Linked DNA regions of Homo sapiens. The protein of the gene in region 1 purifies or fractionates together with the protein of each later gene. This does not show direct contact. Each region holds a gene or a part of one and is shown in the gene's direction. Other genes may lie near its edges.

Region 1 (2,898 bases):
GTTTTTGTTTTTTTGCTATTTATAAATACTGCGATTGAGTAGTATTGTAGAAATAAGTTAAGTTTGGGTCAACTGATTTTTTTTAAGGATGTGTTTCTTGAATCTCCTACCTTTCCTTTCAGTCCTTTCCTGATTCTTCTTCTGACTTCTTTCATCATCTTTTTCCTGCTTCCAAAATGTATGTATCACTGAAGCCTCAACTCCTATTCCTTTGCCTTTACCTACCGCTTCCTAATGTTCTCATGTATCCATACTGAGTCCCTGTTCCTTCCCTGTATTCTCGTCTCTCCACATGCCATACCTGAAAGATCATATCCAGAAGATAAACACTTTTCTTTCTTTCCTTTACCTATGTTCTCATTATTTTTAGCTGAAACCACCTGTTTTCAGAGCTTCAGGAAAAGACTTAATCTGAAGGATCCTGCAGCTAAAAAGCTTTGAAAACTGTGTTAAGGGGCCCCATAAGCATCGCTTCTAAACTTCACTGACAAAAGGGACTGGGGTCATGCTGTCTGGAGTCAGAGTGAGGTGGGGTTAAAAGCTCTATGTGGTTGTTTTGCATATTACTATCAAGCTTCTATTTTAGGCATGAGTTTTGGCCCTGGTAGATAAAACCATTTCTCTATCTAAAAGTTATTAAAACCTGTACTTATATATAGAAGTTAGTAATTTATATATAACATTTTGGTTTAAAAATCTCTGAGTTCTGGACCATCTGGGTCTCAAAAAAATGACCAGAGTATACACATTAATTTTGTTCTGTATTCTATTAAGTATTATGTGACATATAATTCTTATTCATATATTTATTTGGGGAAATGATTGAATTAGGCTTTTAAGAATAGTGGTGCTTGCTTTGTAAAGTTTCAAAATAGGTAACATTAAGGTTTTCTTTTCACTTTTTTTGCAGGGACAGAAAATGAAGCAGTGTTTTATCATGTGTATTTCAGCAGGTCTTCTTGAAATTTAACTAAAAATATGACTGCTCTCTCTTCAGAGAACTGCTCTTTTCAGTACCAGTTACGTCAAACAAACCAGCCCCTAGATGTTAACTATCTGCTATTCTTGATCATACTTGGGAAAATATTATTAAATATCCTTACACTAGGAATGAGAAGAAAAAACACCTGTCAAAATTTTATGGAATATTTTTGCATTTCACTAGCATTCGTTGATCTTTTACTTTTGGTAAACATTTCCATTATATTGTATTTCAGGGATTTTGTACTTTTAAGCATTAGGTTCACTAAATACCACATCTGCCTATTTACTCAAATTATTTCCTTTACTTATGGCTTTTTGCATTATCCAGTTTTCCTGACAGCTTGTATAGATTATTGCCTGAATTTCTCTAAAACAACCAAGCTTTCATTTAAGTGTCAAAAATTATTTTATTTCTTTACAGTAATTTTAATTTGGATTTCAGTCCTTGCTTATGTTTTGGGAGACCCAGCCATCTACCAAAGCCTGAAGGCACAGAATGCTTATTCTCGTCACTGTCCTTTCTATGTCAGCATTCAGAGTTACTGGCTGTCATTTTTCATGGTGATGATTTTATTTGTAGCTTTCATAACCTGTTGGGAAGAAGTTACTACTTTGGTACAGGCTATCAGGATAACTTCCTATATGAATGAAACTATCTTATATTTTCCTTTTTCATCCCACTCCAGTTATACTGTGAGATCTAAAAAAATATTCTTATCCAAGCTCATTGTCTGTTTTCTCAGTACCTGGTTACCATTTGTACTACTTCAGGTAATCATTGTTTTACTTAAAGTTCAGATTCCAGCATATATTGAGATGAATATTCCCTGGTTATACTTTGTCAATAGTTTTCTCATTGCTACAGTGTATTGGTTTAATTGTCACAAGCTTAATTTAAAAGACATTGGATTACCTTTGGATCCATTTGTCAACTGGAAGTGCTGCTTCATTCCACTTACAATTCCTAATCTTGAGCAAATTGAAAAGCCTATATCAATAATGATTTGTTAATATTATTAATTAAAAGTTACAGCTGTCATAAGATCATAATTTTATGAACAGAAAGAACTCAGGACATATTAAAAAATAAACTGAACTAAAACAACTTTTGCCCCCTGACTGATAGCATTTCAGAATGTGTCTTTTGAAGGGCTATGATACCAGTTATTAAATAGTGTTTTATTTTAAAAACAAAATAATTCCAAGAAGTTTTTATAGTTATTCAGGGACACTATATTACAAATATTACTTTGTTATTAACACAAAAAGTGATAAGAGTTAACATTTGGCTATACTGATGTTTGTGTTACTCAAAAAAACTACTGGATGCAAACTGTTATGTAAATCTGAGATTTCACTGACAACTTTAAGATATCAACCTAAACATTTTTATTAAATGTTCAAATGAAAGCAAGAAAGTAAAAATTGTTCTTAAAATGATTTGGCATAAAGTTCAATGTAAGAGGAAGAAGAAGATTACCTCATTTTAAATGTAGCTAATTAATTTTAAAAAGTATATCTCTGTTTTTAATGCAAATATTCCTGGAAGAAGAGGGTTTTGGTTGCTCACCTTATGGAACTGGGAGCAGTGACTAGGTCCCTTTCGATGATTCAGCAGATTCGTTTTCATATTATAAAACTTGTATGTCATCACATACTTGCATATCACATCATAATCACGTTAGCAATGATGTATCACACGTAAAAGTAGAATTTCTCATCCTCGGCACGCTTGACATTTGGGGTTGGTTAATTTTTTGTTGTGGGGCAGTTTAGCAGGATCCCTGCTCTCTGCCCACTGACTGATTGGTGGCACCTCCATGCCCAGTAGACACAATAAAAAATGTCTCCAGACATTGCCAAATCTCCCCCGGTGGATAGGCAGAGTTGCTTCACTGGAGTAAAACAATATGA
Region 2 (3,500 bases), on another chromosome or scaffold:
TGCATTAGTATGACACATTTGTTACAATTAAACAATGCTGATATATTATTAACCAAGATTGAATCATTTTACATTAGTATAATAATATATTTGTTATAATTAATAAACCAGTACCGATACTGGAGTCCATAGTTTTTTCAGATTCCCTTAGTTTTTACTTAATGTCTTTTTCTGTTCCAGGAAGCCATCCAGAATTCCACATTATATTTAGCTGTCATGTATCCTCTTGGGACTGTGACAGTTTCTCAAACTTTCCTTGTTTTTGATATAACTTTGACAGTTTGTTTGTTTTTTGAGACAGGGTCTTGCTCTGTCATCCAGGCCGTAGTGCAGTGAGTGGCACAATCATGGCTCACTGCAGCCTTGATCCCCCTGGTTCAAGTGATCCTCCTGCCTCAGCCCAAGTAGCTGGGACTACAGGCGCATACAACTGCGCCCAGCTAATTTTTTGAATTTATTATTTGTAGAGATGAGGTCTCACTGTGTTATCCAGGCTTGTCTCAAACGCTTGGGCTCAAACAAACAATTCTCCCATCTTGGCCTCCCAAAGAAAGTGCTAGAATTACAGGCATGAGCCACTGCTCCCAGCCAGTTTTTTGTTTTTTATTTTTTTATTTTTATTTTTTCTGTAGAGACAGGGTCCCCCTATGTTGCCCAGGCTGGTCTCAAACTCCTGGCCTCAAGCGATCCTCCTGCCTTGACCTCCCGAAGTGCTGGCATTACAGGTGTGAGCCACTGAGCCCAGCCAACCTTGACAGTTTTGAGGAGTGTTGGCCAGGTATAGCGTAGGATGACCCTGTATTGGAATTTATCTGATGTTTTCTCATGATTAGATTGGGATTATGGGTTTTGAGGGGCAATTCACAGAGGTAAAGTGCCATTTTCTTTCTTTTTTTTTTTTTTTTTTCTTGAAATGGAGTTTCACTCTTGTTACCCAGGCTGGACTGCAGTGGTGTGATCTCGGCTCACTGCAACCTCCGCCTCCCTGGTTCAAGCGATTCTCCTCCCTCAGCCTCCGAAGTAGCTGGGACTATAGGCATATGCCACCACCCTGGTTAATTTTTGTATTTTTAGTAGACACAGGGTTTCACTGTGTTGGCCAGGCTGGTCTTGAACTCCCGACCTCAGGTGATCCACCAGCCTCGGCCTCCCAAAGTGCTGGGATTACAGGTGTGAGCCACTGCGCCCAGCCAAAGTGCCATTTTCATCAGGTATTGAGGGCGCATAGTATCCACATGATTTATGACTGTCAGCGTTAACCTCGGTCCCCTGGCTGAAGCAGTGATTATCAGCTTTCTCCACTGTGAAGTTATTCTCTCATCCCTTTCTATACTGCACTGTACCTGTTATAAGGAGACTAATTAAATTTTTCACACACAAAAACTCAAACCCAGCATCCCAACGTAGCTTCCTTATGCCTCTTAAAATAGGTCTCAGACACTGCTGTGTTCAGAACCCTTCATTAGACTTGCCCAGGCCTGCCTCCCCAACTCTGCATCTGGAGCCTGCATCTGTTTATGCCTCTCCTCATGTTGCTGCTCGTCTCCTTGTGAATGTCTCCTCCCTTCCTTTCCAGCCATCTCAATCCTGCGTGTCTTTGAAGGTCCAGCCAGAAAGTTTTCTTCCCCTATGAAATCATCCTGGAGTAATCGAATCCATTTCTAAATTCTAAATGCTATTTGTTACTGACCTATGCTCCATCCTGCCCCTCTTCCAGGTAAATGAATGGCTGTTTGCTATAGGCAAAAACTGGGTTTTGTGATAAATCATTCAGATTTTACTTTTTTTTTTTTTTTTTTTTTTTTTTTGAGGCAGAGTCTCGCTCTGTCACCCAGGCTGGAGTGCAGTGGCATGATCTCAGCTCACTGCAACATCTGCCTCCTGGGTTCAAGCAATTCTCCTGCCTCAGCCTCCTGAGTAGCTAGAATTACAGGTGCATGCCATCACACCCGGCTAATTTTTGTATTTTTAGTAGCAACAGGGTTTTACCATGTTATCCAGGCAGGTCACGAACGCCTGACCTCAAGTGATCCACCTGCGTCGGACTCCCAAAGTGCTGGGATTACAGGCGTGAGCCACTGCACCCAACCCAGATTTGCCCTTTGTTTAAGAGCTAACAGAACACAGATAAAGAATCATATAACCAGTGCCTATTATATAAAATACCTTTCTTCTGAAAAGGTAAATTTTAGGAACAGAAAACACATATTAGGCCAGGTGCAGTGGCTCATGCCTGTAATCCCAGCACTTTGGGAAGCTGAGGCGGGCAGATCACCTGAGGTCAGGAGTTCAAGACCAGCCTGACCAACATGATGAAACCCCGTCTCTACTAAAAATACAAAATTAGTCGGATGTGGTGGTGCATGCCTATAATCCCAGCTACTTGGGAGGCTGAGGCAGGAGACTCGCTTGAACCCAGGAGGCGGAGACTGCAGTGAGCTGAGATCACACCATTGCACTCCAGCCTGGGCGACAAGAGTGAAACTCTATCTCGAAAAAAAAAAAAGAAAAGAAAAGAGAATGTATATTAGGCTGAGCATGATGGCTTATGCCTGTATTCCCAGCACTTTGGGAGACTGAGGTGGGCGGGTTGCTTGAGGCCAGGAGTTGGAGACCAGCCTGGCCAACATGGTGAAACCCTATCTTTACAATACAAAAATTAGCTGGACTTGGTGGTGCACGCGCCTGTGGTCCCAGCTACTTGGGAGGCTGAGGCATGAGAATTGCTTGAACCTGGGAGGTCGAGGTTGCAGTGAGCCGAGATTGCACCACTGTACTCCAGCCTGGGCGACAGAGCGATACTCTGTCTCAAAAAAAAAAAAAAAAAAAAAAAAAACATATTAATCACTGACTCCCAGTTGAGTTCTGCTTTTCTGTGTCTTATCACAAGTCCAAATGCAGTTGCTTCAGTAGTTTTTTGTTTGATGAGAAACTACTACAGTGAAAAGGACACAGATAGGGTACAGATGACAAGATCAGAGGCTCGGTCCAAGGTCTCTGAGATGACCCATGGGATGCAGTGAGGAATGGACCCTTTCTGGTGGCTCTGCCCTGTGAAGTGGATGTCATACTTTGGCATGGATTCCAGGATGAACTAAATACACAGAGGAGAGAGCTTTCTAGTTCAAACCAGACTGGCTGGCGGAAAGGTTTTAAGGATTACCTAAAATTCTCTCATTCCAGCCAGCTCACTTCTCTGGCCAGACTGAGCTCGTGTGGGAGATGTCAGTTCTGAAATGTTCTTCTTTTCGCTTAGGTTTGCTGGTTGGCTCCCGAGCAGACAGCAGGAAAGAAGAAGCCCTTCGTGTACACCCAGGGCCAGGCTGTCCTAAACCGGGCCTTCTTCCCTTGCTTCGACACGCCTGCTGTTAAATACAAGTATTCAGCTCTTATTGAGGTAAGGAGACTAAGGTTAGGTGCACCTGCCCTTGGGATGAAGAAATGATTTCAGATCTATCAATCAGGTCACGTTTCAGTGGTAAATTATTATATCCATTCAG

What was found. Proteins that work in one complex are often made in the same cells at the same time.
Region 2: the proteins of GPR160 (region 1) and RNPEP purify together in Homo sapiens (affinity purification with mass spectrometry; one large-scale study listed by BioGRID and IntAct). This does not show direct contact.

The regions. Positions count from the first base shown.
Region 1 is NC_000003.12:170,082,995-170,085,892, forward strand, and holds the end of GPR160 (probable G-protein coupled receptor 160), read left to right. Parts: intron 1-910; 5' UTR 911-978; coding exon 979-1,995; 3' UTR 1,996-2,398; downstream 2,399-2,898. UniProt on the Homo sapiens protein: Orphan receptor.
Region 2 is NC_000001.11:201,985,648-201,989,147, forward strand, and holds part of RNPEP (aminopeptidase B), read left to right. Parts: intron 1-3,256; coding exon 3,257-3,397; intron 3,398-3,500. UniProt on the Homo sapiens protein: Exopeptidase which selectively removes arginine and/or lysine residues from the N-terminus of several peptide substrates including Arg(0)-Leu-enkephalin, Arg(0)-Met-enkephalin and Arg(-1)-Lys(0)-somatostatin-14.